3 linked regions of the Homo sapiens genome follow. The protein of the gene in region 2 interacts with the protein of the main gene of each other region in a pairwise test. Each region holds a gene or a part of one and is shown on either strand. Other genes may lie near its edges.

What was found.
Region 1: the proteins of TIAL1 (region 2) and CELF4 interact in binary tests that used the Homo sapiens proteins (3 or more experiments, as listed by UniProt).
Region 3: the proteins of TIAL1 (region 2) and AOC1 interact in binary tests that used the Homo sapiens proteins (3 or more experiments, as listed by UniProt).

What each region holds. Positions count from the first base shown.
Region 1 is NC_000018.10:37,560,898-37,571,881, reverse strand, and holds the start of CELF4 (CUGBP Elav-like family member 4), read left to right. Parts: upstream 1-6,083; 5' UTR 6,084-6,240; coding exon 6,241-6,526; intron 6,527-10,984. UniProt on the Homo sapiens protein: RNA-binding protein implicated in the regulation of pre-mRNA alternative splicing. Mediates exon inclusion and/or exclusion in pre-mRNA that are subject to tissue-specific and developmentally regulated alternative splicing.
Region 2 is NC_000010.11:119,585,097-119,595,393, forward strand, and holds part of TIAL1 (nucleolysin TIAR), read right to left. Parts: intron 8,994-10,297; exon of another isoform or gene 8,904-8,993; intron 8,424-8,903; exon of another isoform or gene 8,356-8,423; intron 7,022-8,355; exon of another isoform or gene 6,880-7,021; intron 3,153-6,879; coding exon 3,056-3,152; intron 1-3,055. UniProt on the Homo sapiens protein: RNA-binding protein involved in alternative pre-RNA splicing and in cytoplasmic stress granules formation. Shows a preference for uridine-rich RNAs.
Region 3 is NC_000007.14:150,846,614-150,857,493, reverse strand, and holds the start of AOC1 (diamine oxidase [copper-containing] isoform 2 precursor), read right to left. Parts: upstream 4,978-10,880; 5' UTR 4,936-4,977; intron 3,391-4,935; exon of another isoform or gene 3,331-3,390; intron 1,040-3,330; 5' UTR 1,024-1,039; coding exon 1-1,023. UniProt on the Homo sapiens protein: Catalyzes the oxidative deamination of primary amines to the corresponding aldehydes with the concomitant production of hydrogen peroxide and ammonia.

The sequences.
Region 1 (10,984 bases), on a different chromosome or scaffold from region 2:
GCCCTTTAAAAAAAAAAAAAGTCAATTCTTTGGGGAAGATAAGGAGTAAACTCCTAACCCCTCAGTGCAATTAAGTTCATCAAATTTATCTACATTCTTTTATAGCCCATTTAGACCCTCAATCCCCACTCTTGTCACCTTAATAATTTTTACATGAAAACTGATTAGTCAGCCTCACAGACGTGCCACTGTCTCATCTTTTTTGGATGTGATATGAGGAAGGAAAGGAAGGTGGAAGAAAGGGACCCCAGTCTCCACTTGATAGAAGAGAAAGCTGACGCCCAGGAGAGTGATGAGTCAGGTCCCCACTGCTGAGTTCTGGCTCTCCTGGCCACATCACACAGGATGCCCCTGTCTGGGACTCTGGGGTCCCTTCATTCCGCCTCTCACACTGCCTCTACATTTCCTACCTGTCCTCAGCACAAGTGAGGCGAACCCCCAGGGTTAGCATGAAAGCCTGGAACAGGAGCTGACCACGGACTCCCAAAACCATTCCCTGCCAGAGCCAGGGCTCCCCTCACAAGACCGAGGCAGTATGGCCCTGAGGCTCAGCCAGCAAGAAAAAACAGCTCTGAGACCCCTCTTCTGCCAGCCCTGGCACCTGTCTGAGACCTGGAGACAGCTCAGTCCTTCTAGGGAGCCCCTGGGTTTCCCAAACACACAGCGTTCTCCCTCCAGTGGGTTTCCTTCATGCCCAGACCTGCTGTGGGCTCACAACAGGACAGGAGGTCCTTCAATTGTCTACTTGAGTAGCAGGAGGCTGCCAATATTAGCTAAAAGGCAGTAGGGATTGTTTTTCTCTTCCTTTCTTGCCCCAATTATTGTTCTTTATATCACTGAACTTTCCTGAAGTATTCCAGGTCAGAGACACACTGGGTTTGTGGAGAAGACCATACTGCTGAGGCTGCCTGCAAAGCCCCATCTTGCCTACCAAACTGATAACCACATGGGAGCCTCCTCCTTCTGTGTGTCATGCAAGAACTCAGAGCCCACTCCTCACTCCAGGCCTTGCAACTCCAAACACCACTTCAACCTGAAGGCCACCTCTCTCCCCTCTTCCTGAGCTGAAACACCCCTTCCTACAGGGCCAGCAGGGCCTGCTCCTCCAGAAGGCCTTCCCTGAGTGCCACTGCCCACACAAGCTCCACCTTCTCTGGGGGTCCGTAGCCCACACAGCCTGCTCCTTTCACTTTGCCCTTCAGTTGGATCATACCCTTTGTGGCCATTTGGCTCTTTGAGTCCGTTTCTTTGCCCAAACAGCACATGAGCCCTATACAGAGTACAGGGGAGTCTCCGTTCCTCCAGCCTGCCCTCACTGCCCTCTGCAGGTCTGGGCAGAGCAGTCGCTCCATAGAGATGTTTAATTTGAGGTCTGGTCTGTTAGGGAGCCCAGTGTATATCTCAGCTCTGTTTTCAGCATGGTCTCAACATAACCTTGGAGTAATCCCTGCTTTTCTCCCTTCCAGTTTTAAATCCCCAGCATCACCCAGCGTACCACCAATCTGGCCCCCTCTGCATCCTGCCTTCTTCACTGCCTCTTTCCTTAAGGCTACTACCCCCATCACAGATCATCACAGGCAACTTGGATTGTTTTCTATTTTCTCCTATGTGGAACTCCTCAGGCCTGGAAGACATTTAACCATCTGTTGCCATTTGCTGTTCTGGGGCTTTTCACTGGGTATGACTTTGGTCTAACTAGACGGTGAGATCTTTGCAGCCTTGTCCTTTCTTGGCTGCTTCCAGAGGGAGGTCAGAAAGACTGGATGAATGCAAGAATGACTGAGTGGTGATGCTTCCAAGTAAAGCAGTGCAGACCCAGGATGCTGAACTGCTGCGGGTCTTCTAAATTACCTGTTCAAAAGTGTCCGCCTGGGGCCCTGCAGCTCCCCTTCCTTAGAGCCCATATGAATATAGTGTTGACACCACTCCCCAAGTCAGATTAGCCACCGGTATCTACAAACTATATCTTAAGCACCTACTGTGCTACCAGAAGGGGTTGCAGAGGAGGAGGAGAGACCAGATTACTGGGTCCTTGCCCTCCATGAGTTCACAATTGAGGGGGAAAGAGAAGATTTACAGGCAGGAGAGCCAAAGCAGGCCTGAGGTTGTGCGGCCATGGCCAGGGCTGCTAGTTCAGTGGGTGTCAGAGAGAAGAGGGTGACCAGTGACAAGTGGCTCAGCTGGAGGGAAGCTGAGCCCAGTGAGGGCTCCCTCCCCTCCTTGAGGAACGAGAGAAGCAAAGGGAAGCGAAGGAACAGGAGGTATTGGCAAGGCCTGAGTAGCTAGCCCACCTGAACCTAATCCCCCACAGGACTTTCTAACACCCCCAAAGATGAATCAGCAACAACATATAAACACCAAGCCCAGAGAGAAAATGAGAAGCAATTGTTCCCAGCCCCACTTCCATTTGCTAGCCTTCTCCCTCTCTCTCAGTGGGTGAAATAATTGTGGCCATGAAGTGGCACTTGGAGGGAAAGTTAAATCTGCTTAAATGTCACAGTGAGTAATACTTTGCCCATCTTTCTCTAATTACATTTCTCTTTGATGATCTAAGGTTAAAAAAAATTTTAACTCAAGTCTTCCTAGAATATCAAGGGTGAGGATACCAAAGAGCCAACCTAATCATGTTTCATACTATTTTCTCAAGGGTCCTGCTCTTTTATTGCATTAGTCTGAGACACCTGTCTGTGTTATTTTATCCCCAACACTCTGCTATGGAGGAGAGGTAGGAGCCTAAGAGATCCAGATCTGCACCTTTAAGAGACTGATGCCTAAACAGAAGCTGCTTCTGCTGCTGTTTACACTGGGTAGCTCAGTTAGACAGGACTTAGTGTCCTGGGGCAGGAGCTGGGAGGGAGGACATTTCGCCATATATCTGTCAGAAAGATGAGAGGTAAGGGTTGTGCCACCTGCTAAGGTGAGATAACCCAAATCCAAAATAAGCCATCATCAGGTGGGAGAAGGGGGAGGGTGGGGATCTCTAAGGAAGGAGCAGCTCTCCACAGCTTTGAGTCCACGGATGAAGAGACACCAGGAGGGGCCGTGGTGCACAGGGCAGGGGAGCAGTCCTGGAGGGAACTGGCACTGCACAGAATGGAGGAGTCTTCATGGCATCTGAAATAGCCAGTGCCCCCTTTCATTAACAAGCCCACTCCCTGGCTCACTCCTGCCCAACGATTGCTATTATTTATGTATTGACTATTATTAATAATAACATGAGTAATTAACCCCCTGTGAATAATTTACTTGGACCTAGGGGTGCCTTGGGTGGTGGCAGGAAGAGGAGGGTGAACTTCAGTGACTCTCCCCTGAGCAGTTCCCTTCTTTTCCAGCTGCCCTTAGCTGGCCCCTTTCCCTTTCCGATGTCCGGGCTTTGCTTTCAGGGGTTGAGAGGCAAGGAGAGAAAAACAGACCTCGAGCAGGAATTTACTCTCCTAAACTCCCCTGTGATAGCAGAAAATACATGCCACTCAGCTGTAGGATCCTGGGTGCCATGCACCAGCACCACAGGATGATGTTGGAAGAGATATCTTGGACAGAGTTAATAGCCACTGCTGATGTGTCCTAGGGGACCAGAAGGAGGAGGTCTCAACCTGGTATGGACACACACATATATGCAGTGTGGATACACGCAGGGTCCGTGCAGAGACCCACGCTGCATCCACACAAGCAGGCACACACGGCCAAACCACACACACAAACTCTCCAAGTGCTTAGCAGGGACTTGCCCCCCTTATCAGGGCACTTCAAAGGCACACCAAATACACAACCACCACATGGCAAAGGCTCTATATGTGAGTTTCTGTTCGAGTCATCTACTTGGTCGATTCTTAGACCAGCATACAACACCGGATAACGTAAACCCGGTAAACCAAGTGACGAATTAACCATACTTACACCCGATTCCGGCAAGCAAAGGCAGGAGAAGCTAAAATGAAAGGATGAAGTTCCACAGTTCTAAAAATCATACTTGCTCTTTGGTTTGGGCCCGGGATCCTCAGAGAGAGGCGTCCTGAGCGGACTCGGGGCCTGGGGCTGCGAACCTCGGGCCTCCGGGCCTCCTCCGGCGCTGGAGAGCTCCGTATTGTGCTTGTACCAAATGGGGTTGGCCTGGGTTTGCAGGCAGCTGGGGTCTCATTTCTTTAATTAAAATTGCAGACATATCCTCTAGTAACGTAATGTAATCCGAGGGCAAGAAAAGAGAAACCCTGAAACCCGAAAGTGGCTAGCCGAGGGCCGGCGGGGGTTAGGCCAGCCGCTCAGCCCCGCCGCCCCAGCTCCCCAGCCCCGCAGCCCGCGGGGGAGCGGGCGCGTTATTTCAATTTGCCAGGCTTCTGAAGCGAAGAGGCTGCCCTGAAAAAGCAAACATGAGAGAGGACGGGGTGCAGGTAAATATCATTAACGTGAAAATCTGCTACCCCAGCCAAGTTCACCACCAGTATTCACCCCTACAGGCGGGGCCGCTCGGACCCTGCTCCCGGCTCCGCGCCTGCCACTCCCTTTCCCGCGCAGCCGAGATGCCAGCCCCAGTGGGCCTGGCGGGGAGTCCGGCGGGGTCCGGACCGGGCGGCTCGACCCCCGGTCCCCACGGCAGGAACGACTCAGCCTCGCACCTCGGGAGCTGTAGGTGCCGAAAACGAAACCCGCGGGGGCAGCGCACGCCGCGCGAGTCTCGGTCCGGCGGCAACCCAGATAGCGATTCAGGGGCTTTATTCTTTTGATGGTGATTAAAAAAATATATTCTATTTGAACCCGTAAAGCAGACGAGGGCAAATCAAGCCATCCCCCGCGCTGGCTCACCGGCCACCGCGCCCAGCGCCTTCCTCCCCCTCCGGCGGGCGAGCGGGCAGGGGCGCCCGACTCCTACCTTCCTCCCGCCAGCCACCGGGGGACCAGCCGCGCTCTCCGGGGCGGGGGAGGCCGCCCGGGACGGGGACCCCCACCTTCCGCCTTCGGAAGCGGGTTGGGGCGGGGGTCGGACCCCGAGTCTCTACTCCCCGTCCCTCTGCCCCCCGGCGCGGCCCGACAGCTCCCAGCCCCATCCTGGCAGGTGGCTTGGGTGGCGGTAGATGCCGGGCGGGAGGAAGATGTGGGGCTGCTCTGGCAGGTTGGGGGTGCGAGGAGGAAAAAAAAACAGAGAAAGACACACACAGAGAGACAGGGAGAGAGCGCGCGCGAGAGAGCTCTTGTCTATAGATTTATCCACATAATATATATTTATGTAGCTTTTTTTCTCTCGACACTGATGAATGCGCGCTCGGATCCCCGGGCGGACTCCCTCCAAGCCGGCTCGCTTTTCTAGTCTAAATAAATAAATAAAGCCAGATGGAAGAAAAAAGCGCCCATTCCACCTCCGCCGCCGCCCCGCCCGCCATCCCTGCCTTTGCTTCGCCCGCCTGGCGCCCTAATAGAGCATAGCTTGGTGGATAAAGCCCCCCTACATACCCACACGAAAATAAAAATCACTATTTTTAAAATACAAAAAGTTGCACCTGCTGCTATTACAAAAAGAACCCCCAAAAGGCAAAGAGAGGAGGCCGGCTGCCCGGCTCCTCACGGACACCCGCTCCCCGCGGCCGCCGGGCCCGGAATCTCAGCGCCTCCCGAAGAGCCATGCGCCTGGCGCTATTTATAGCCGGGGGCCGTCTCGGACTGTACCATCGCCACGGCGCGGGGCCGCCGACGGGGGAGGCGCGGTGGCCGCCGCCCCACGCCGCCCTGCCCCCGGCCGCCGCCCGCCGTGGCGCGGGCCCCCACAGCGCGCCCATTCCCGGCCCCCCGCGCCCTCCTCCGCGCGCGCACACTCGCCACCCCCACCCCTGGTCTGGCTGGGAACTTGAACCGGTCCAGCCTGTTTAAACGGAAAGGACAGAGATCCTGTCTGTTCAATGTAAAAAAAAAAAAAAAAAAAAAAAAAAGAAAAAAAGAAAAAAAAAATCAGATCAGACCGAGAGAGAGAGGAGAGAGGGAGAGAGAGAGGGAGAGAGAGAGGGAGAGAGAGAGGAGAGGGAGGGAGGGAGAGAGAGAGGGGGGAGAGCAGAGAGAGAGCGCGAGCGCGAGCGAGCGAGAGAAGAGGAGAAAGAGAGAGAGCAGAGAGCGAGCGGAGAGCGAGGTGTAGAGAAACCGAGGGGGAGAGAACCCGAGTGTGTGTATGCGTGTGCGTGTGTGAGCGCGAGCGAGCGAGAGAGAGGAGCGAGAGAGTGTGAGCGAGAAAGAATAAAAGGAAAGAAGATTTTCTCTATGTATATAAAGATGGCCACGTTAGCAAACGGACAGGCTGACAACGCAAGCCTCAGTACCAACGGGCTCGGCAGCAGCCCGGGCAGTGCCGGGCACATGAACGGATTAAGCCACAGCCCGGGGAACCCGTCGACCATTCCCATGAAGGACCACGATGCCATCAAGCTGTTCATTGGGCAGATCCCCCGCAACCTGGATGAGAAGGACCTCAAGCCCCTCTTCGAGGAGTTTGGCAAAATCTACGAGCTTACGGTTCTGAAGGACAGGTTCACAGGCATGCACAAAGGTGAGTACACCTTTCCCTCCCAACTTTGCCGGGGAGCAGGAGCGGGCTGGCGGGCCGACCGGCCGGCCGGCGACTGACGAGCGGCGGACTAAGCGAGAGGAAGCCTCGGGCGGGCGCGGTGGAGGGAGGCGCTCGGGCAGCGGAGACCAGAGCTGGGGTGCGTGGGGAGCTGTTCGCTGGGGCAAGACTGGGTTTTGGGCGAGGTGCTGATAGGAACGATGCCATGGAGAGAGCAGCGGGCGCCGATGAAGAGAAAGAGAGAGGGGATCGAGGAGACGGGGCTTGGATTTTTGGGTACAGCGACCTGAAAGATGGGGATGGGGAAGGCTGCACCGGTCGAGCCCAGGACGCTGAGCGGACGGACTCGCGGGCTCCTGGCCGGCCGAGGACCGAGGGTGCTGTCCATCGCCGTGGTGCTGAAAATACTAAAGGAGGTGGTCTCCTCATCCTTTGCTCCGGGCTAGAGTAGCAGGAGCGCAGCCGTCTAAAAGGGAGAGAGGTGACAAATTCAAAGAGAAATTTTTATTTAAATGTAACAGTAAACTCTCCCTGTCGAGCTGTGTGCCTCAATAATCTGATTGTGGTGTGAATGGTGGTGTGTGTTGGGGGTGGGGGGGTTGGATGTTTGAAGGAACCAGTGATAAAACCTAAGGCAAGAATTAGCAAGGAACCAGCCATCCCCTGGGTGGAGTGGGGGGTCTGGCAAGCCTGGATAGTCCCCTTCCCAGGAAAGCGGGGCTTTGGGAAAAAAATATGTGTGTGCGAGATTTGCATTTTGAAAGGTGTACCCTAATTTATCCCAAACTCACCATGCAGAGAGCTTTATAGTACATTATTTCTCCCTTGAAGCGATCATTGCCAGTGAGTGCTTGGGGGAGGGGGAGACAGAATAATCAAAGAATTAAAACACAGCAACTTTTTAGGAAAGTGGTCATGGGAATTGTCCGCAGCCTGCCTGTTTTCTCCTTGTTTTATTATCTTTAAAGCAGAGCCCCAAACGTGTTCAGTTGTAGAATGTGTGTGGGTGGCTGGTGGGTGACGAAATTAGCCCAGTGCTCCGCTTCCTAACAGTAATATATAGGATGTGCAGCGGGAATGAATCGGTGCTGGATCTATGTGGGCAAGTTAAATGCTTTCTGAGAGAGATTGATCGCCAGGCAGGGAAGGAGCACGGGGCTAAGGAAGTTGTAGGGGATGTGTATGGATGTTCCGTTTTTAATAAACAGTAGTGTGGAGAGCCGCCGAAGATGCTGTTACAGCTGGTGGTTTTAAAGATGAAAACACACGCACACCCACCCCCACATAGAGAGCAGCCTCATCCTTGGCCACAAATGGGCTATGGACACAGCTGATCCTCCAGCACATTAGGTGCAGAGCGCAGAGCTGTCTGGCTCTCTAAGCAGCAGCGATTTTCACTATCACAACCACCCTCTTTCTCCAGCCCTCCCTTCGTTCGAATACTAAACAGAGCTCCAAACTCTTCATAGTTGGAGTCCCAGAGAGCAGTTTTTATTGGCTTTAGTATCTTCCAGCTTGCCTGCTGAGGAGTAAATCTTAAAGTTAATGGCATGTTGAGTAACACAAAAACACAGCAGAATGGAAATATACTGGGTTTGTTGGGGTGGGGTGAGGGTGGGGGCTGTAATGGAGAGAGAAGGCAACCTTTATCCAATATGGAGAAAATGTCTGTCTGTTCAAAAGAGAGATTGGAAAGGTGGAACGGGGAGGCAGCCTTCAAAATAATATTCGAAGAAAAAAAGAAAACACTTTCTTTTTCCCCCCCTCCCTCTCAAGTCAACCATATCTTTGTAGTTTTTCCCCTTCCAATCAAGCTTCCTAGAAGCTAATCAAGGTTTGTATCAAACCTTTGTTATTCTGAATGTCCTCATTGTAAAAAATAGTAATAATAAAAATTTTGAAAGCATAGGTAGGGAAGTCTTCTGCTCATCTTAATGATCAGTTTTTATGGTGATTTAAGATTTTAAAGTTAAAAAAATCAGAACTCACTAGAGGCAAAAGACAGTTATGAGGAGCTGGGCTTCATATGGCATCTGGATTAAAGCACTTTATTTGCTTCTTCATTTCAAATGAAGATAAACTTTAACAATATTCCTTGGTTTCTTTTCTACAATCCCTGATATCATCACTTTGTTGCTGATGTAATTTGGACTCTCTCATATAATAGCAAAGAAGTAGAATTTTCATCATTTGCATTAGGGAGGTAGAGAAGGTTATGATTATATATATAATATATACGTAATACATATATTACATATATTTTATATATAGATATAGATATCGATATATAAAATCTGGCCAGAATTCCTAGGACAAACAAAACTTCATTTTCTAAATAATTTCTCCCCTAAACTGTCTCAGTCAGTGGCAAGCAGGCCCACTAGCTCCGGCATACTGGGTTCCTCGTTGTCGCAGCTCACCCTTCAGAGCCTGAGCATATATTTTTCCCAGTGAAACTTCCTACCTCTCCATCCTTCTGATTTTTATAATCGAGGTTGGACCACAATGTCCCTAACAGTGCTTGCAAGCTCTCAGAGAGCTGAATAAATGAGACCGTTTCCGAGGTCTGGTTTATTCAGTCCTAGAAGAGTTTAAACTCCTTCTTCGGTGATGGAGCCTGATTTATTAGCTAATCCTGATAAAATAAGCCTCCGGCCACCTTAAAAAATTACTCGCTTGCCATTGGTGATTAATTACTGTTAAGTCAGAAAGCATGATGAGGCTTGAGGAATGAGTGTTGCATTTGGTTTCTAGATTTCCCCATCTCTAAATTGACAACATAAGGTTAGGGATAGAATCATGCCTTTGTTAAGCCTGGTTTCAGGGCATATTTGTGCCTCTTGCTCTCCCCTTCCTTAATTTCTAACTTCTAATGAATCATACAGGATCAAATTGAGAGACACAGGACACTGGCCTCCAGTTTGGATGTCATGTTTATGTTAGTGGCAAAAAAAAAAAAAGGAAAAGGAAAAGAAGTAAAAACTAAATTAAACACAGGAGGTTTCAGGTGGGTCTCCATTTGTTGGCCACCTGCCATTTCAGATATCTAAAGAAGGAAGGAGTTCTAAGGGTTAATGGAATACCTGCCATGCGTAGAGTGCACCTTAAAAGGCAATTACTCCAGTCAAATTGGGAGTCTGTGGAGGAGGGAGTGGGTGGGTGTTGTGGAGCAAACCCAGCCATATCAGAGAAAGGCTGTTGGGCTGGGGAGGCAGCAAAGAGCAGTTGTGGACTGGGGTGATTACTGTAAAGGTAAATTTACCCCCTGGAGGCCAGAAAGCAATTGGGGAGAGGGGTATCTGGGTGCTAGGCAGAGAGAGAAAGGAAGAAAAAAGCCCAGAATTAAAATTCAAAGAAACAACACCCAAGGAAGAAAACCGAGTTTAGTGCAAACTCTCCTGACCAACTCAGAGTCTTCTTTTCTCCCCTATTAGAGCACTTTGGGAAAGATTGTTTTTCCAGGCTCCAAAGAGAAAGACATTGTACTATTGATTAAAGAGAAAAGAGATGAATTCCTCGGGTAGCAGCAGAAATGAGCTGAGGGCCAATTTTACCCCTTTTTGTAGAATTTTTCTACCCTGGAGAAGGGAACAGGTCACCCAGTAGTCCAATTCTTCCTTTCTCTCATTTTTAATTTGTTTCTCTTTTCTTCTTTTCATTTCCTGTAGAACAAAAAGAGGCAGTGTCTGAAGACACATATATGTACACATACCCATGCTTGTTAACACTCACATAAACAGTGGATCACACATGAAGAAATCAGCAATCCATTCATAACTTTGGTCCTGTCTAGCTGGATGGGAGGCAGCAAAGACTGAGTTACTGGGAGATATAAAGACTAGTGCTCTCTGGATAGCCATATTATAATGCATTATCTTTGAAGTCATTTAAGTCCAATTTAAGTGGTATTTAGTATAATATTTATGAATTAACGTAATCTAAACATAAGGCTGTCCCCAAAGGTTTAAACAGCCTTTACTACTGATGTGTGCTTGTTCCCAGAGCCTACGATGCATTTTAATCTAAACGGCCAAGTCCACATCATAGTCCCTCTTGTTATCCAGTCAGAACAGATCTGTGCCTGGGTAACCACTCTGCTTTGAGATTTTCTCAGCTACATGGAGGAAAATCTACTTTACCGGCAGCCTGGGGGACTCTCAGCCCAGGAGCCACAGCTGCAGGGATTTCAGCCCCTCATACTTCCACACTACATCCAGAAGTGTGGGGACAGAGCAATAGAATCTTCTGTGGATTTAGCTCCAGAGAGTGTATCATTTTAAAATATACTCACCACCACATGCACAATCTTCTATTTCAACTATACCTGAATAGGAAATGCCTAAAGCCCCTTGATTTGGGGTTTAGCTGTGTGAAAGAGGAAGGACGGGGATATGAATATGTTTTGCTGATTTGTGACCATCTTCATAAAATTATGTCTTG
Region 2 (10,297 bases):
TGGGCAAAAGAGCAAGATTCCATCTCAAAAAAAAAAAAAAAAAAAAAAAATCAATTATGGCTGGGTGCAGTGTCTCATGCCTATAATCTCAGCACTTTAGGAGGATGAGGCAGAGGCAGGAGGATCACTTGAGCCTAGGAGTTTAGGACCAGCCAGAAGTTCGGGACCATTGGTAACATGGTGAAACCAATCTCTACAAACACATTTAAAAATGAACTAGGTGTGGCGGTGCTGTCCCAGCTACTTGGGAGACTGAGGTGGGAGGATCACTTGAACCCAGGAGGTGGAGGCTGCAGTGAGCCATGATGGCGCCACTGCACTCCAGCCTGGAGGACAGAGTCAGACCCTGTCTCTTAAAAAAAAAAAAAAAAAATCCGTTATGTCCCTACCTTATTTAGCGTTGTCACCAATTTTTGTTGGATGACATAAATGTCAAGACAGAGAAATATGAGACTTTACAAGCTCAAATCTAGGAGTTCTAGAATATGGATGTTATGAAAATTCATTTCGAGTCCCTCTACCCTTCAAATAGCTGTATGTATACATGGGGTTTTAAAAAATAGTTAAAATAAATCTTTACAAATGTTTCTCAAAAATTTTCTAGTGAGTCTTTCCCCACTTTCTCACAACCCGTTCTCTCCTAAACCTACTTCTGTCAGCTTCCAAGCTAACCATGCCACTGAAACTGCATGTTGAGCTCAACAATGACCTCTCTGCTGCTTCTGTGATTCCTTTTCCATCCTAATCTTTACTTCCAAGCAGAATTCACTACAGTTGACCACCATCCTCCTTTAAACATTCTCTTCTGTCTCCTACCACACTCTGGTTTTCCTGTTTCCTCACTGTAGGATCTTTCTTCCCTTACTCAAACTCTAAATGTTGAGCTTGTCCAGGGCTCAGACCTCACGGCCTCTGTGCTCTTCTTTACCATCATTCTCTCTCTGTGAACTCATCTAGTCCCATGGCTTCATGGATTCAAATACCACTGCAAGCTTCAGCACCGGTCTCTCTAGAGTTGCAAACTACTTTATCCAACTGCCTAATCTAACGTCCACTTTGATGTCTAATTCATGTCTTAAATCTAACATCCAAAACACAATTTCTGATTCCCACCACTCCCCATGGTGACATCCATCAGGTCACCCCCACTTTAGCAAATAAATAGCATTACCAACTATACAACTGCATTAACATGAATCTTAGGGTATTTCCTGATTTCTTCCTTTCCCTATGTCCCACAGCCAACCCAGTCCTATCAATTCTACCTCCAAAATATATTCCAAATCTATCAACCTCTGTCCTTATCTTGACTTCGGCTAGCACTTTCGAGAATAAGCCTCCATCATCTCTTACCTAGACTAGTGAAGTAAATCCAGATGGTTTTTCTCCTTCTGCTCTTGCCCGCTACAATCTATTCTCCATAAAACAGTCATTCTCTACATAGAGTAGTAAGCTTAAATATGCAAATCTTGGCACCTCATCCCCCTGCTTAAGCCCCTCCACTGGTCTGCCACAGCAATCAGAGTAAAACCTAAACTATGTCATGGACCATAATGTCCTGTGATTCTGAATCCTGCTGTTAGACTCATTTCCCTTAACTCCCCTCCATCCCTCACCAGACTCTAGCCATCGGTCTTTGATTCCACAAACACAAGTTCATTACCAACTCAAGACTTGTATTTGCTGTTTCCTCTGCCTCCAGCTCTTACCATAGATAGCACCATCTTGTTATTCATCTCAGCTCAAAGAGGTGACATCTCTCATCACCTAGCCTATATAGCACCAACCCTCCAATCATCACAGAACTCTGTTTTATTCTCTTCATGGCTTACATCCCTATTTGCTTGGGAAACTCATTTGGCTGTCTCTCCATTATATCTCCAGTACCTTGTATAGTGCCTAGTGCAAAGGAAATTTTTGATCGATGAAAGCACAAATAAATAATTAAAGGCAGGAAGGAAAAATATAATACACCAGAACAAAATGATGATTGTCATTACTTGGGAAAGACAATCAAAAGGCCAATGCACTTTAAAGGTTTTTAACAGTTCTCCGTTTCAGGATAAAACAAACTCTTTAGCACAGTTTCTAGCCCTTTCCATAAACTCCTGCCATCTCTTACGACTAATTCCATTTTAACTACAACCATGCTACGGGTTCTATTTTTCCCTCTCTGTCTCAAGCACTCCTGCTCTCCCTACCAACCTGGATCAAAGTTCCCTTTATTTGGAATCCCTTCTTCCCTCAATTCCTTTCTAGCCAGTATGTACTACTATCCTTTCAAGGTTTCCGCCTAGGCAGTGAGTCCTCCAAGAAGCCGCTCACTGACCTAAGGCTGCACTGGATACACATTTGCTCCCACAGCACTTTAAGTTGTCTGCTTCTAGAGCATTTATTATCCTACTTCCTAAGTGCCTGCTAACTCCTTTGTCTCCCTACTAAACTGTAAAATTCTCTGGGCCAAGGAACTATCTTTATTCACCAGTGTATCTCTAGCACTTACTGCAGTATCTAGTACATAGGAAATAGTCCAAAAAAAAAAAAGAAAGCTGATCAATGAACAAAAACACAAGGAAGAAAAGCCTAAAACATGACTAATTGGGTGCTGCTACAGTCTTAGCAGGAAAGTATAAAAAGGTAAGTATTTGCTACAGACACACGAGACGAACGGTGCTGCACACTACACACATAATAACTTCGTGTTCTCGCACATGAACACATGCTGTCTAAATCGTTAACATTCTTATTGGAATTGTATGAAATACTTTCCAATTTTTCACCATTCTGAAATGAGCTCTAATAATGTTCTGAAAGCAGAATCACTTCAAGATAACCACACCATGAAGAATGACCGTTTGAGCTTAACAGCACGGAAACTTTGCCCTCTTAAATAAAACTCCATTCTAAGCCTAGTTTGTCAGCCAAATCAAAGTAATAAGTCAACACAACACAAATCTCTCCACCAGAATAACTTGAGGCTTACAATGAAATTTTAAAATCATGCTAATCAACCCATCATGCTAATTGTCAGCACATGGAACTGGGAAGATCTTACCTCTGTTATCATTTTACAGCTTTTACAGGGTCCAATCTGACTGAACAACTGAAGTATAAGGACTTCTGTCACATCTCTGGAAAGGTTACCTACGTATCTGCACAAGAAAAAAATACGTTATCAGCAATTTTTCCTTTAGCTCTGGCTCTAATGTGTTATCATCTAATTCATCACCTTTTCTTTCTTTCTTTCTTTCTTTCTTTTTTTTTTAGATGGAGTTTTGCTCTTGTTGCCCAGGCTGGAGTGCAATGGCATGATCTCAGCTCACTGCAACTTCCGCCTCCCAGATTCAAACGATTTTCCTGTCTCAGCCTCCCAAGTAGCTGGGATTACAGGCGCATGCCACCATGCCTGGCTAATTTTTGTATTCTTAGTAGAGACAGGGTTTCATCGTATTGGTCAGGCTGGTCTTGAACTCCTGACCTCAGGTGATCTGTCCGCCTTGGCCTCCCAAAGTGCTGGAATTACAAGCGTGAGCCACTGCGCCCGGCCACCTTTTATTTCATTTTAACTTCCTCTGTTTTCAACAAAATTTCTCCAATTAAACCTGATCCTATGAAAGTAAGATTAACCCTTATTTAGGAAAGCAACAATTGTTCTTAGGCCACTAAAATACCACTCTGAAAGACATTTAAAGAACAAATCAATGTGATCTTGTATACCCCAATGGCATTATTATTCTGTACCCTGGATATCATTTTCTCATCTTATTCTAATTGTTAAAATTTTAAACTGGTCTCAAGATAACTACAATTTCTAATTAAAAATAATTTATAACACACACACACATACAACAAATACTAATTCATTAAAACATCTGATTGTAATAGGATATTAAACATAAAGTGAGTTTATCTTAGATTCCCAACCAAAGCAATTACATGAACAAAGAACAGAATTAAAGTTATAGTAAAACATACAGAGGGTGGAGGGTTTTTGTTGTTTTGTTTTTGGCTGAGTAAGGTTGTTTGCAATGATGTCTTCACTGTTTCATTTTAGGAGAGCAGGGTAAAATATAAAATTTCCTAGTCTAAAATGCATCAGAATCAACAAAATATATATGTATTTTTTTGAGATGGAGTCTCACTCTGTCACCCAGGCTGGAGTGCAGTGGCATGATCTCAGCTCACTGCAACCTCCGCCTCCCAGGTTCAAGCGATTCTCCTGCCTCAGCCTCCCAGGTAGCTGGGACTACAGGCGTGCACCACCACGCCCGGCTAATTTTTGTATTTTTAGTAGAGACGGGGTTTCACCATGTTGGCCTGGCTGGTCTCAAACTCCTAACCTCAAGTGATCCACCTGCCTGAGTCTCCCAAAGTGCTGGGATTACAGGAGTGAGCCACCATGCCCAGCCAACAAAATATATCTTAATGTAGATAAAAAAGCTAATACAAAGATTTCTTAAGAAATTCAGAGAAAAACTAAGACAAATCCAGGCATACTTTTGACTATGGACACTTAAAAATTTGGGTTTTTTTTCCTAATTACAATTGAATGTGTTTTGTGTAAAAGATTTTAAATACAGGAAAGTTTAAAAAAGAAAAGAAAAAAATGCTACTTCATCACACAGAGAGGACCACCTTGGTTTATGTCTTGTACTATGGATTTATCTTAATTTATCTAAATAAATTGCCAAACACTAAAGTCTTTCTGGTATTCTACACATAATTCCTCAAATTTGCATCTGTTATGAACAACCTCATAAACCAAACAATATCTGTAAAATTTAACAAAGTTCATTCTGGAAAGTAGATTTCTTTTTCTACTTGTAATATATTACATCTGGAAACTGAGTATTAAGACCAAAATAAGACTTGCAACATAGCTGCCACATTAAATACACAACATGCTTTAAGATGGAATACTCAAAGGGAAAAATAGACTGAGAAAGCTTAGGTTAAGTAAAAAACTTAAAAGATCCAATTAAGAATTAGTAGCGATTTTCCAGTTAAGAATTTTATTGCAATGAGTACTAATAATCTTAGTGTACCTGCTCTAAAATTGAAACACACATCCAATATTACCTAACTAGAGGACTAAACAAGTGACAAACTGTTTTACGTCCACTATGCCACCTTTTCCACGTAATTAAGGAGCTGATCCATCAGCAGGCCAATGTAGTGACATACTTTTTCCAGCAGGACTAAAAGGTTATTGGGTTATGAGCCAGCGATAGGCTGCTTGCCCCTTCTTAACTCATAGGGGTTTGTGAGCCTGTATCTCTGAAATGATTTCTTTTTGTACAGAGTAGACCTATCTGTAAGAAAAATGAACAAGTGACCAGGCATGGTGGCTCACGCCTGTAATCCCAGCACTTTGGGAGGCTATGGCAGGCGGATCATGAGGTCAGGAGTTTGAGACCAGCCTGACCAACATGGTGAAACCCTGTCTCCACAAAAAATACAAAAATTAGCCGGGCATGGTGGCGCGCACCTATAATCCCAGCTACTCGGGAGGCCGAGGCAGGAGAATCGCTTGAACCTGGGAGGCAGAGGTTGCAGTGAGCCGAGATTGCACCATTGCACTCCAACCTGGGCGACAGAGTGAGACTCCATCTCAAAAAAATAAATAAAAAAGAAAGAGAGAAAGAGAGAGAGACAGAGAGAAAGAGAGAAAGAAAGAAAGAAAGAAAGAAAGAAAGAAAGAAAGAAAGAAAGAAAGAAAGAAAGAAACGAACAAGTGATCTTGAGCTTCTAAACATTATGCTCCTTGCCTAAAGGGCTAGTTAGCTCACTTCTAAGAGAAAAGAAGGATGGATAAAACTGGTTTTCACATATTGAAGCTAGCTAATAACAAAATTAAAATAGAATTATCATTTTAATATAACACATTTTAAATGATTTAAATAGTTTTAAATTTCCATTACTGTTTAAACATCAATTTCTTCAGGAAAAACTGTATTGGAATTAGTTACCTTCTATATCTAATAGTCACAAAAAAAGCCGTCACTGCTTAATAAGATCTTTATTCCACCAGGTGTGGTGGCTCACACCTGTAATCCTAACACTCTGGGAAGCCGAGGCAGGTGGATCACTTGAGGTCAGGAGTTCAAGACCAGCCTGGCCAACATGGTGAAACCCCGTCTCTACTAAAAACACAAAAAATTAGCCAGGCATGGTGGCGGGCACCTGTAATCCCAGCTACTTGGGGGAGGCTGAGGCAGGAGAATCACTTGAACCCGGGAGGTGGAGGTTGCAGTGGGCTGAGATCGCGCCATGGCACTCCAGCCTGGGCAACAAGAGCGAAACTCCATCTGAAAAAAAAAAAAAAATCTTTATTCTAAGTCAACCTATTTCCCGCCAGTTACAGATCTTGAAGAATTTCTAGAGGCATATTTAGATATATTAATTTACATTTCTAGCACTGAAAGCAAAGATGAAAACGTTAATATCTAAGTTTAGAATGTCATGAAATATTTATTTAAAAATCCAGTATTAAGGTTTCCTATTTTTCAAATTATCTCCACTAAAAGTTAAATGTTAAGCAGCAAACTAAATTTCAAAAACTAACATGAAAGGCCTTCCATAACAACACATACAATATCTTAATTTACCAGGATTAAAAGGCCATGATTCACTATATAATTTCACCTAAACTTTACCCAAATTTCAGACTGCCTTTTCTTTTACTGAGTTCTTGTACCCAAATTTCAGATTGCCTCTTCATTTACATTTGCCTTCGTGCATCATAACACTTGAGAGACGTATTGTATAGCTTTTAAAATACTGTACTATTCTATTTTAAGTACTTTTACAGTATCATAAAATAATCTGTCCCAAAGTAAATACTAACAAAAATATTTAAGACAAAGTTCAATGCCTGACCTAGTAAGATCATCTCTTGGTAGTTCATTGAAATGACATCTTTATTCGTTCCAAATTATAGCTTCTACACTTCACTTTCTTTCTGCTCTGGTTATGAAATAGTCAAGCTAAAGATCCAAGTCTTTAAATATATAATTGCTACCTAAAGAACATACACAAAATAACAGAAAAAAGATAAATGGCTCTAATTTTTGTATTGAGAGGTCAATTCAAAGAGTAAACACTTAGGAAATTCCAAAATGATTTTTAACTCAACGAAAAAATTCAGAAGAGGCATACCTTAGAGTCTATTTTGTCTTCTAAGAACAGGAACTGTAGGAACTGAAGCATTAAAAACTGAAAATGACACCTTTATCTCTAATATCAGGGTTAAAATCCAATTTGGGGCTAAAAACTTAGCAGTTTCACAGTAGGCAGAAATTCACATTGCCAAACTACTTCCTGTGTCCGACTGGGCAGAATTTTAAGTTAAGAATATCATGCCTTTCAGAAGACTAATGACACTTTTTCAACACTGAATGTGCTCTCACTCTGAAAAGAGTAGCCCTACCAAGGCTGAAATTATCAGCACTTTCACACAAAAAACTATAGCTAAATTTCCATAATAGTTTTGCTTTTGTTCTTGACAAGTCCTATACAAGAAGAGATTTTGCAATAATATCCTTCAATAGATCTCTAATTAATTGTTCAATTTGTCGGTACAGTATTTCATTTTAGGAAGGAGGCATGATGGAAGATAGCTGCAGGAGGTACAACTAAATTGACCAACTATATATATGAGATATTCTCACACACACACACACACACACACACTCACTCTCTCTCTCTTACTTTAAAGAAACAAAGAATATGATTAAGTTGAATTTGAATGAGGGGCTTGATTATAGCCACAGTATAGCCAAATCCATGGTATAGCCAGTCAATTTTGTAATAGTTTATAGAATTTTCTTCTGCTTTGTTCTTAGATGTTCAGATTATACTCTAAATCATTAGCTTATTTCCAGGAAGAAAGAATAGCCTTAAAGGAAGGGATTGTGTAACATGGTATTACACGAATTCCTAGCAATTTTGGTGCATCCGATAGATGAAGAAAATAAAATAAGCTACAATAAAACACTATTACAATTTAGTGTCATATTGTAGATTCAGATATACCATGGATCAAATCACTGCACTACAAAGATACACACAACCCAAGCCTGAAATGTGTGTCCCACAAGGCAGGTGTCAGACAGTCCAGTTCCAACACCAGTATTACACAGCATGATCTTGTTTGTTTTTTTAGATCACAAGTTACTCAATGCATAATACCCCAAAATAAATGTCAAATGAGAATGAAGAACATCAGAAAACAGACCTTTAAAGCAACTATATGACAAATAGAAATTTAGGCTCAACATCAAAGCAATTCTTGCCACTTTAAATACCATCAAATAAATTAGTAATACTGTAGGTAATGAATATTTAAAGACCTACCTAGGCTCTAAACACCATATTGTTTTCTGAAGATAGAACCATATGTCTTAGCTTGTGTGTGTCTGCAGGAAAAAAACCTCACTAGTAACACACAGGCATCTTAAGGAAACAATTTAAGATAAGCTTTGTTAAGAACACATTCTTTTAAAACATACTGGCCACTTGAAAAACCTAATCCATAGCTCACAATGTAAAATATAAGATCTCCATAAACAAAAAACCCTACTAGATATCAACGTCTAAAATCATGTTCAGTTTTCATCATGTTACTTATATCTAATAGAACCCTTTGAGAATATGTAAAACGTACACTTAGAAAAACTATGCATTATTTGTATTAAACTCTAATAAAAATCCCAATTGTTAAACATTTGCTTTTATCTCAAGATTTTACATTTGAAGGTTTTAAAAAATATATAAAAGTCAACAGACTGCACCACATGTGACAGTAATGTCTGCCTACAATCTTAGTTCAACCAGGACTTTTAAAAAAGAACTTAATACTAATTTAATGAAAGAAGTATAATCACTGTAGAAATTCTGAGTACCTCTTATGTTCCAGGCAGTGAACTAAGTGCTGTGGGGGTAAGACCTAGGAAGATGTAGTAGTCCTTCTCTTAAAAAAAAAAAAAGGCCCTATGGAAAAGGGTGGGAGAAGGAAAAAGGAAGACAGAATAGTAAACACGTACTGACATACAAAACAACAGAGTTAAGATGTTTATTTATTCATATGAACATGTCACAGTTTTAGAGAACTGTAAACATAGACAACTTAACTGTTTCAAAGAAAGAACAAGAGATTAGAGAAGGTAGAGGAAGGAAATAAGTGACAAAGAAGTTAGCTTATTATTCCCCTGGAGAAACTCTGATAGGGATGAAGGCAAGGCAGATGCAAAGATAAATAAAAGACATCAAAAAAGCACATTCTTTAGCACTACAAAACCAGAGATTCCTCTTGGTAAGGAACAGATACAGTAAATGAGACCCCTGCCATGAGTATTTATCAATCATTCAGTGTGTGATGATACTTCAGATTTTTAGATACAATGTAACTTTTATCTTTGTTAAATACATGTTAGCTAGTCTTTAAGCCTAGCTTTCCCAGATGCTTATATCAAAGTACACATTGTAACTCAACACCAAGTCTTGGCTTCAACAGATGTTGAAGGATAAAATTTTTTTTTTAATTGTTTAGACGAACTCTCGCTCTGTCACCAGTCTGGAGTGCAGTGGTGCAATCTCGGCTCACTGCAACCTCTGCCTCCTGGGTTCAAGTGATTCTCCTGCCTCAGCCTCCCAAGTAGCAGGGACTACAGGCGCGCGCCACCACGCCCAGCTAATTTTTGTGTTTTTTGTAGAGACGGAGTTTCACCGTGTTGGCCAGGAAGGTCTCGATCTCTTGACCTCGTGATCCGCCCACCTCGGCCTCCCAAAGTGCTGGGATTACAGGCGTGAGCCACTGCGCCCGGCCTGAAGGACAAATTTCAAGTGTGTCCCAATTCTTTCTTCTAGGGAGAGAAGGCAGAAATGGAAGACAACACAAAACACAAAGACGTTCTATTAAGCAGGCGTTTCATTGAAGCATTGGATGTGCTTCAGTAGGCCTCAGATTCTCAAAACGGGACGGATACTTCAGTGAGACGTTAGAGAACACATTTATTCCTGTACAAGGCCACACCAAAAAAATCTCTATCAATACTGAACATCTATCTTCTTTACTGAGCATCCTTTCTTTGGTAGGAGTGAAGAGATGTGAAGCTAGTCAAACTTCTCGAGTGCCCCTCCACCTTCATCTATTCCCTAAAAAGCAATTTCCCCATCAGAGAGCAGAGCCAAGTGGACTATGATCCTATCAATACCAGGAGAGGCAAGAGAAACAAAGCAGCGATCTGACTCCTTGGTACTCAAGGTAGGAGTGCTAGACCTGGAGAGGCCGGGAAAT
Region 3 (10,880 bases), on a different chromosome or scaffold from region 2:
GAAGTGCACGTTCAGGACCTGCAGCCCGGAGGAGGAGCGCAGCCGGAAGGCAAAGCTCCAGCCGCCGTAGAGCACAGCGTTGCCCTCCAGCCTGAAGCGAGGGCCGTGGGGCTGGACCAAGCGGGGGCCGCTCACATGGATGGGGCTGGGGAAGTCCCCGCGGGGCTTGTGGGAGGAGAAGAGGGGCGGCTCCTCTGTGCTGTCATGCCCCTTGCCCCCAGGCAGCGGGTCCTCCAGGACCACCACGTCCACCTCTCCATCTGCATACTTCCGAGCCAGTTCCTCTGGGCTCCCATAGAACTTCCCGTTGTACCACACCTGCTCCACGGCCCAGTGCCCAGCATCTGTGCTCCCATGATCCACGAGGAGCTCCAGCCCAGTGGGGTGCAGAAAGTAGCCTTCTACATAGCGCTGTATGATAAGCCAACTGCGGCGCTGGCCAGAAGCCACACCCCGGGGGGCCACATCGGTGAAGGCCAGGCATCTGTCATGGCAGTCTTGGAATGAGAAGCCTGTGGTATTGAGGAAGAACTGATGCAGGGGCTTGGTGGCTTCCTGCAGGGTGTGGTAGAGGAGGGCATACTCTGCTGTGGAGATGGGCCTCGATGCCCAGGAGGACTGGTACCCAGGCCTGGGGGACAGTGCTCGCATGTAGCAGGGCCCTGGCAGGGGCCCCACAGCAAACTCGGTGACATTGGGATGCTCCTGGTCACCAAAGAAGATGACGGCACGGGCTTCCCGCACAGGATGCCTTTCACCTTTATCCAGAAACCTCAGCACATGGTACTTCTTGGGCAGCAGCATCTCGATGAGAAACACGGTGTTCTTGGCCATGGTGGTGGTACTGGAGGGCTGCAGCCTCAGCTCCTTCTTGGACCAGAGGAAGCTGTGCACTGCCTTCAGCTCTTGGTTGCTTAGGTCTGAAAACACCCCTGCCTTCCTGGGCAGAGTCCCCGGGGAGGGCTCCGCCATGGCCGTCTGCAGCATCAGGATGGCAGCCACGGCCCAGCCCAGGGCCGGCATCTCTCGCTCCACGGCTCTGGAATGCAATAGAGGAGATGAACTTAGTTGTCTTATGGGCAGAGATGGGCTTCCCTCAGGTTAGGGCCATGGAATTTTCCCATGGACTGAGCTTCCTCCCCTTGCCCTGCCCCAAGCTGGAGGCTGTCCTGGGGCAGCTGGGGCCCCATGCATAGTCCCCAGCGCCGTCGGGCCGCTGCCTGTGCATCCATCCATTTATTTCTGCCCTCTCCTCACTCCTCTGTAAATGTCCTTCAGTCCTGCAGCCTTCCTTACTCAGGGGAACACCCTTGTTTTTGTGTATTATCTCAGCCAGGGGTGCCGTGAGTCACAGAGGCCAGGCTGGGCCCCTGCACATGCCCCCAGGTGCTTCTTGTGTCCTGGAGAAGAAGACACCTGTATTAACAGCAAAACTACATTTCTGACACAACGAAATACCTTTTAGGTAGACAGATTTTGAAATTTAGTGTAGAAATTCAAAGGTAGGCTCTAGAGTCAGGCTGTCTGAGTCAAGTCCCAGTGACTCATGCCACTAGGACTTGCTGTGTGGCCTTGGGCACGCTGCTTAAACTCTCTGGGCCTTCATGTTCTTAGTTTTAAAATGAAAATAATGACAACAGTGCTTAGCTCCTAGGGTTGTGGAGAGAAATCAATTAAACAGTAAATATAAAGTGTTTGTAACAATGTCTGCCATATGGGAAATACATGAGAAATGTTAGCTGCTCTTCTTGTTAAATACAGGCTATCGACACCAGCCCATTTAAAGTTTTACGCAATGTAGAGTGATTCAGGTGTGACTAGGCTGCAGACTGATGGCTTTGGGGGTGAGGTAGAGGTGCCCAGTCCTGCCTAGCCTTCTTTGTGCCCCATTCACCTCTCTTGTCCACCCAAGGCTACTAGGAGGGGACCTCAGGGAGGGTTTCATCTTAGGAAGATGCCTTTTCCTTTCTCAGGGAGGGTGGGTCAGGGTCTTCACCTCATAACCCCATTCCCCAAGCAGCTGTAAAATCCTGTGCTTGTAGCTGTGAGCCTCCTGCAGGGCTGGGAGACGTGGTGGCCACAGCTCTGTCTTCCCATGTGCTGTGTGCGGAGTCTCTGGGAGACTGTTACTCTTGCCTGTTGCGCTGTTGCTACAGATGCTGGCTGGAGCTGTCTCCCAGCCTTAGTTTCTCCAGACCCTAACTTGTCCTCCTAGGTGATGTGGGCCTCCCTGGAAGGCTGCCGTCACCGTGAAATTTCCCTACAGAAGCACTGCCTTTGCCACCTTGCACCCCCTTCCTCAAGGCTCTGGGTTGAGCTGGGAGCCCCGCTTCAGGATTCCTCCCTGTCTCAGCTGTGCTTTTCACTTCCTGCAAGCAGTGCCTGAGGCACAGACACTTGATTTATAAGGTGGATGCATGAGTGGGTTGGACTCTGAGAGATCCTTGTTTTCATATTTTCATAGGTAGTTGCCTTTTGCTCCCTAAATCAGAAGCCCTGGGGGTAAACCTGGAGAAAACTCGTTCTCCTGTGCAGACAGACAGGTAGCAGAGAGGGTTAATCCACTCCTGTCTCAGACCTCTGCCTGGCCCAGCCTCTTCCCAGGGGGCCCAGGCTGCCTGCAAGGGAGGCCCCGAGGATTTCACCTGGAAAGTCGGCGGCACAGGGTGTGAGGTGTAACTGAGGTGCAGCAGCTCCACTTTGGGTGTATCGTGGAGTGACCCACTGAGGAAACCTGACCATCATGAGCGCTTTTCATTTCTTGCTTTTGTTTTTGGAAAATGCATTTACACATCACATTTCCGAAGCACAAGCGTTGGGAACACAACCCATGTGTTAACTAGAGGCCCTGTTTTCCCGTGGCTTTTTTCCTCCAGAGAAGCTCAGCTGCACATTGTCCCTTCCCACCCGACTCTGGGCCAGTGTCACATCCTTTGCCACCTTTTGAGGTCAGCTGAAACCCCGCACTGCCGAGGAATGCTGTTTTTGGCCCCAACTAACATACTTCTCCACTAGTCCCCTTAGCACTTTGTATTTAATTTGTACACGATGGGCAGTTCTTGATTCATAGACAAATGAAAGGTGTTGGCTGGGCCTGTTCCATCACCCGAGGGCTCTCTAGCCCTGGAGGCCACGGTAAAGGCTGATCTGAGATGTCCTTCTCTCCCTTTCCCATGCCCCTCTCCCCGAGGGCTCTCCCCTTGCCCTCGTTTTGCTCCATGGTCATGGCCTCTCATGGGGATGTCCCTCTAGTTGCCTTGTCTTGCCCTCTGGTGCTGGCAGAAGACCCTGGAACCCACATGATCTTGGGCTCTCGGAGGCCCTGCTTACCTGGAGGGAGCAGGTGAGGCAGGGGCTGCAGGCGGAACCCAGAGCCAGCAGGAAGGATATGAGGTGAGTTCTTGTGTTCTCCTATTAAATATTGGCCAGGCCTCTTTTTTTTCTTCTTTAAATAGACTATTTTTTCTTTTTCCTGAGACAGTCTTGCTCTGTAGCCCAGGCTGGAGTGCAGTGATGCGATCTTGGCTCACTGCTACCTCTGCCTCCCAGGTTCAAGCAATTCTCCTGCCTCAGCCTCTGGAATAGTTGGGATTACAGGTGTGCACCACCATGCCCGGCTAATTTTTTGTTTTTAGTAGAGATGGTGTTTCACCGTGTTGGTCAGGCTGGTCTTGAATTCCTGACCTCAAGTGGTCCACCTGCCTCAGCCTCCCAAAGTGCTGGGATTACAGGCATGAGCCACCAGGCCTGGCCCCAAATAGACTTCTTATTAGACTTAAATAAATAAATAAATAAATATATATATATATATATATATATATATATATATATAGTCAGGATCTCACTATGTTGCCCAGGCTGGTCTTGAACTCCTGGGCTCAAGTGATCCTCCTGCGTTGGCCTCCCAAAGTGCTGGGATTATAGTAGACTTTTTTTTTAATAGACTTTTAAAAATAGACTTTAATAGATTTCTTAATAGACTTTATAAAGTCTGTTAAAAGTCTTTAAAAAGTCTATTAAAAGTCTTTTAACAAACTTTATAAAGTCTATTAAAGTCTTTTAAATAGGAGTCTTTTAAAGAGGAATTTTAGGTTCATAGCAAAATTGAGCGAAAGGTACTGAGAGTTTCTGTATACTCACAGCCCCTACACACGCAGCCTCCCCACTATCAATATCCACACCAGAGCCATACATTTGTGGCTGATGAACCTGCACATCACTCTCACCCAGAGCCCACAGTTTACATCAGGACTCACTCTTGCTGCTGCATATTCTATGGGTTGGACAAACGGACAATGACATGGATCCACCATTAGAATATCACACAGAATAGTTCCACCTCCCCCAAAATCTTCTGTGCTCCACCTCTTCCTCCGAAACCCTAGCAATCACTGCTCTTTTTATTGTCTCCATAGTTTTGCCTTTTCCAGAACGTCCTGTATTTGGAATCTTACAGTCTGCAGCCTTTTCAGATTGGCTTCTTTTGCTTGGCAGTGTGCATTTAGGGTACCTCCATGTCCTTTCACGGCTGGGTCTCCTTTTTTACAACCTCTTATACCCACGTTTCTTTTTGCTTTTCCAGGAAGGAGAAAGATGTGGAAGAGACCTTTGCTTTCCCCAGGACAAACCTCTGTCCCCATGTGCAGTGGCAGTGGGGGTGGTGGCTGGTGAGACCTCCAGGCAGGAACAGGAAGCAAGCCCTCTCCCTGCTCACCCTCCTCTCTGAGCTTTCCCCACTCCACCCTGGCCGGCTGTTGCCTGCCACCAAGCACCCGGGCACCTTCTGTGATGTGCTGGGCTCCCGCCCTCACTTCCTGGCCCTCCTCCCTCTGTGTCCTGTTTCTTCTGCCCCTCACTCTGTGCCCTCCTTCCACTGCTTTTCTGTCCTCCAGGTCAGCCCCTTCTTGACTCTCCCGAATACCCATCAGAACGCACCTGTGTGCTCTGCTCCCAGTTCGCTCTGCTTCCAGCCTTTGCCCTTAAGCTGATCTCTGACTCCTTCTTGAAGTCAATCAGACCCCGCCCTGCAGGGAGGGACAAGGTGAGGCCTGAGCTGGCCTAGGAGGGGCCTATGGCTTGGGAGGTGCCTCTGTGGGCAGCTACAGTGGCGAGAGTGGGTTTGAGGAAGCTGGCTGTGCAGCACACTTGTCCTGAGTCTGTTTCCAGACAAGTGCCGCCTTCCACAAGAATTTGCCTTGGCTTCTCTGTGACGAGCCATGCAATGCCACGATCTGTTAATTTAGGTGGCATATTTTAGAGGCAGAGATAAGGACAAGGGGCCATTTCCTAGCCGGTAGTCTTACCTGAAGCTGACAGATGGACCAGGGCAGGGGCTGATAGAGGCTGGCACCCACAGCAAAACAGAGAATTCAACCGCTCCTAGAACAAGACACCAGAGGCAGAACCGTTTGGGAGGAGCAGCCACTCAAGACGAGTTGCAAACTTTGGCGGCTTTTTAACGATCTTTGAGACCCTGACCAGATTCAGAAAGGAGGAAGGACTTGGCTGGGAGAAAGCTGGCCAGGGTAGCTAAGGCTATGGCACAGAGCGGAGAGGGGAGAGGACACTGGGGCAGGTAGTGCCCATGCAGTGGGCGGACAGTGCTAACGCCCACTTAGTCAGGTTGAGAAGGGCGAACGTGGTGACCGGGGTAACTCCTAGTTGGAAAGGAAAGAATAGAGTCAGGAAAAGTTCGTGGCTCAGGAGTGCCAAGGGGTCATCATCCCCCATTACCAAGGTTTGGTTGCTCAGGGATTGCACACCGCTTTGTGGTTATAGGGGTTTTGTATTTCTCATCATCATCCTTCCTGCTGCCCGCAATGCAAGCCATTTCAGTGTGCACTGGCAGCTAGATGAAGGAAGGTGAACACACTTAGTCAACTTGAAGCTTGCTTGCAATTCCAGAAGGTCTTTGGTGTTTCTGAGGAAGGGGATTTGCCTTCCATGTTAAAATGATGATTGATACAAAGACAATGAATGCTAACGTCTTTCACCCTCAGTGTTCAAGAGGACTGTGAGTTATGTATTCTCAGTTATGGGCTCACCAACTCCGCAGAGAATTGGGGGGATTTGGATTAGAAGAGAGTTTCAGGAACAACCTGATTTTGAGGACTACAATCTGTTTCCATTCCACAAAGGAAACTGCGACAAAGTTAATGGAGTGAGGATGGATCGAGAAAAGAGACTTGCAAAGATTTAAAGGGAAAGGGGCCACATGCACATGATGGAGTTAGACCCTTTCACACACGGAAACGGACTCGAAAGGGACCAAAGACATACATGTAAGAGCTAAAACTGTAAAACTCTTAAAAAGAAAACATAGGAGTAAATCTGCTTGACTTTACATCTAATTCTTGGATGTGACCTCAAAGCACAAATAACCAAAGAAAAAAAAATAGATAAATTGACATCATCAGTATTAAAAGACTTTTATGCTTCAAAGGACACCCACAGGAAAATGAAAAGACAAAGCATAGAATGGGAGAAAATATTCACAGATTATATATCTGATAAGAAAATTATATCTAGAATGTAAGAAGAACTCTTCCAATTCCATAATAAGAGGCAAATAATCCAATTAAAAATGAGCCAAAGATCTGAATAGATATTCCCCTCACGAAGATACACAAATGGCCAATATGCACATGGAAAGCTGTTCAATGTCATTAGTCATCAGGGGATGCAAATCAAAACCACCAGGAGATACCACTTTATATCCACTAGGATGGCTAGAATTCAAAAGCAAGGTAATAACAGGTGGGGCCAGGAGGCAGAGAAACTGGAAGCCTCACAGGCAGTTCATGGTGAGATGACGCAGCCACTTCGGAAAACTGTCTGGCTGTTCCTCAAATGACTTAACGTTGTTATCATATAACCCAGCAATCCCACTCCTGGGTATATGCTCAAGAGAAAGGAAAGCCTATGTCCATGGGGAAACCTGTACCAGAGTGTTTACTGCAGTGTTATTCACAATAGCCAAACAGTGGAGACGACTCATATGTCTCTGCATTGATAAATGAGTCAACAAAATGTGGTCTATCCACTCAATGGAACATCATTCAGTCATAAAAAGGAAGGAATCACTGTTACATGACACAATGTGGATGAACCTTAAAACCACTACGGCAAATGAAAGAAGCCAGTCACAAAAGACCACATTATTCCATTTATATGAAACGTGTGGGGTAGGTAAATCTCTCAAGCAGATGAGAAGCACATTAGTGGTTGCTTAGGGCTGGGGTGCGATGGAGGGATGGGGTGAGAGCTAATGCTTATGGGGTTTCTTTTTGAGGTGATTAAAAAGTTCTAAAATTGAAGGTGATGGCTGCATGTACCTGTGAATGTACTAAAATGCATTGAATTATACACTTTAAATGGGTGAATTGTAAGGTGTGTCTCAATAAAGCTGTTTTCAAAAAGTGACAGGACTAATATCTAGAATACACAAGGAGCTCTTGCAAATCGGTCAGAAAGAGGCAGCAGTCCCCATGGAAACCTGGTAAAGAATCCCAAGGGTAACTTGCAGAAGAGGCACCCCAAAGGGCTAAAGAGCACATGGAAAGATGCTCAAATGTAGTGGTTACTAGAAAAATGCAAAGCATTCAACAACGAGATATAATTTTTCATGGGAAAGCTGGATGATGCCAAGTGTTGACAGAGATGTGGGGAAACGGGGACCTTATGTGTGGTTGTGGGAAGGGGTTATTGATGGCACAGCCATTCTGGAGGGCACTTTGCAGGGTGTGGGCAAATGAGAGAATTGCATGCTCTCCAGACTCAGGAACTCTGTCTCTTGGAATATATGTCAAAGAGGTTCTCACCCAGGCCTAGAGGTGGGATGCAGACACAAGTGGCTGTGAGGCTGGGGAGCTGGAGGCCATCGGGGTGCCACCCCCAGGAGAGTGGTCACTGCACACCATGGGGTGTTGTGCAGTTGGCGGGTGCAAAGGCATGGATGTCCACACAGCCACTCCTGAGAAGGGATCTCAGGATCATGGAAGACGCAGGATGAGTGATAGCACGATGCCATTACACAACAGGAAACACGTACACACCAAGCCACCCGCTTTCAAGAGTGGATACACATTAGAATGGATGTGAGGGCGGGGGTGGGAGTGGGAATACATACATACACACGTGAGAAAGACAAGAGAGAGGACTTGTATGGGCCAGTGATGACGACATCCATGCACTGAGGTAGAATTAATTCAGTTCTGCAATGGACGTCCATAAATAAATAAAAGAAAGGCCTGGGAGACAGACTGAGTGACTACAGGTCCTCACACCAGGGTAGATGTGGCTGAGGACAGGAACCACCACAGGTCCCGCACCTGGAGGATGCAGTGAGGGCAGGGAGGAACACTGCGTGTAGGCAGGGAGCTGAAGCACACCAGAAAGAATTGCATTTTTTATGTAACGGGGCCCATAACATGTACATAGAAGGATTAATATTACAAGGTGGCACAGAGTAAGTGCAACACATTGATGCCCAAGGGCCTGTCCTGCAAGGGCTTGGAAGGAGATTCCCCTCAAGACTGCAAGCCCCCAAGTCCTGGGACTCTATCCCCTCTGCAGTAGCCTCCATGGCTGCTGTCACAGAGGACCACACACAGGGGCTTAAAGTAACAGAAATGGGTTGTCTCACAGTTCTGGAGGCCTAAAGTGTGAAATCAAGGTGTAGGCAGGGCCATGCTCCCTTTGGAGGCTCAAGAAGAGGGTCCTTCCTCTCCTCTTCCAGCTTCTGTGTTGCCAGCAATCCTTGGTGTCCCTCAGTGCCTTGGCTTGTGGCCATGTCACTCCAATCTCTGTCCTCACATGGCGTCCTCCTTGTCTCAGTACCTCTATTTTCAAGAACACCAGTGATTGTATTGAGGGCCTACCCTACTCCAGTATGACATCATCCTAACTAATTCATCTGCAACGACCCTATTTCCAAATAAGACCATATTCTGAGGTTCCAGGGAGGACATGAATTTTTAGGGGGATGCTATGCAACCCAGCACACCTTCTTTACCTGCCTCATTGCAGAGAGCATGGTCCTTGGCCAGTGAGTGAATTCCAAGCCCTGTGCCCTGGGGGGCTGCTGCCCCGAGGATCCACAAGGTAGAGCCTGTGTGGGGTTTTGCGATACACGAGGGACTTAGGAGGAAGAGGACACACTGGGCAGGGGCGGGGGTGGGAGTGGGAGTGTGAGTGGGGGTAGGAGCAGAGTCCTGAACTGAGATGTGGTGTGTTTCCCAACATGGGAAAAGGTCAGGGCTGATGCGGGGAGTGGGGTGCGGTTTGTGTCGCTGTGCTGAGGAAGGGCAGGTGGTGTGTCTGGAAGGAGGAGGTAGAGTGAGGAACCTCCCTATGCGCTTCTAGAGAAGTGTGGGGGTGAAGAGGGGCTTGTGGGAATCCTATAGAGACAGAGGAGATAGAGAAGCCCTCTAGAGAGGCACTGGGAAAGCTGAGGCGAACAGAATCCTTGTGCAGAAAAGCTGGTAAGTCTGTTGTTATATACATATATATATTTGTAGAGACGGGGTCATGCTGTGTTGCCCACGCTGGTCTTGAACTCCTGGCCTCAAGTGATCCTCCTGCCTTGGCCTCCCAGAGTGCCGGGATTACAGGCATGAGTGACCATGTCTGGCCAAGGCCATTGTTTCTGCTCATGTTTGTGTGCACTGTGGCTGGGGAACTTGAGATGTCACACTTGAAATTTGGGGTCTGTTGCCTTGCCACCTCTCTTCCTGCTCCCTGGCTGGGGCTGGCCCCTCCATACTGAAGGTGACCTTGGTTTCTGAGGTGTGGTTCCTCGCTTGTGGAATTAATGATTGCTGACAGTTAGAGATAGCACTTGGGCAAAGACCGTATCCTGTCAGTTGTTCGCTGCTTGCCTTTCTTAAGGAGGTCCAGGCCTAAGGAGGGGCAGCGCTATATACAAAGGTGGAGCTAGGAAGCCAGAGGTCACAGCTCACCATGTCCTGTGGCTAAATCTTGATATTTTGCTTTCAGAAAGTCACAACCTGTCAGAGCTAATTTGAGAGGATCTAGAGAGTGGGATTGTTTCCACGAAACCACAGAGAAGAAACAGAGCAACCCGCGCCTGCACCAGGACCTACTGGGGGTACACCAGGGAAGCTCATTCGATTAGATCTTTATGTGAATGAAGCCAACATCATAGCTTTTGTCCCTGATTAGGGAAGGTGGGTTTGTAAAAAAGAAAATTCCACCATTTTCTGAGGCAGGGCCATTGGTCATAAGGGGCCCTGGTGAGGTCCTGATGGCTTGGGCAGCCCCACCCAGAGAGGGGAGAACGTTCATCTCCAGGTGCTAGCCCTGCTTCTGCCACTGGCTGGTGGGCTTATACTTGACAGTCCTTAATTCATTCAACAAATGTTTATGGAGCACTCATTCTGCACCAGGGAGACACAGCAACGAACAAACAAAACCAAAGCCTCTATGGGGCTCATATTTTAGTGAAGACTATCCAACAGCGAAGCTTGTGAGCCTTCACAGCAGACCTCCTCACTGGGACAGCTGATGACAGGGGCTGGCCCTGGGCTGGCATCTGGGAACTTAACTTTCAGGATCCTGCCCCGCTGTGCCGGCCTGCTGACTGTTTTTACAGACAATGTGATTAGTGAACACCTGCTTTCCTATTGGGAATCTGGAATCTTGTTAGTTGTGGTGGGCAGAGAGTGTGCCTACGTGACCAGCCCCAACCTCTGCCCCAGCTCTGAGCTTCTACTTCCCTGGGGAGATGCAGGGCGCAGGGTATGCTCTGTGCAGCCTTCATGGGAGGGAGAGCTCAGCGAGTCTGTGCCCTGACCCCTCCAGACCCCGCTGTGTCCTTGCTGTGTGTTGGCCGTGGGTATAACTGTCTGCTTAGTCTGGTG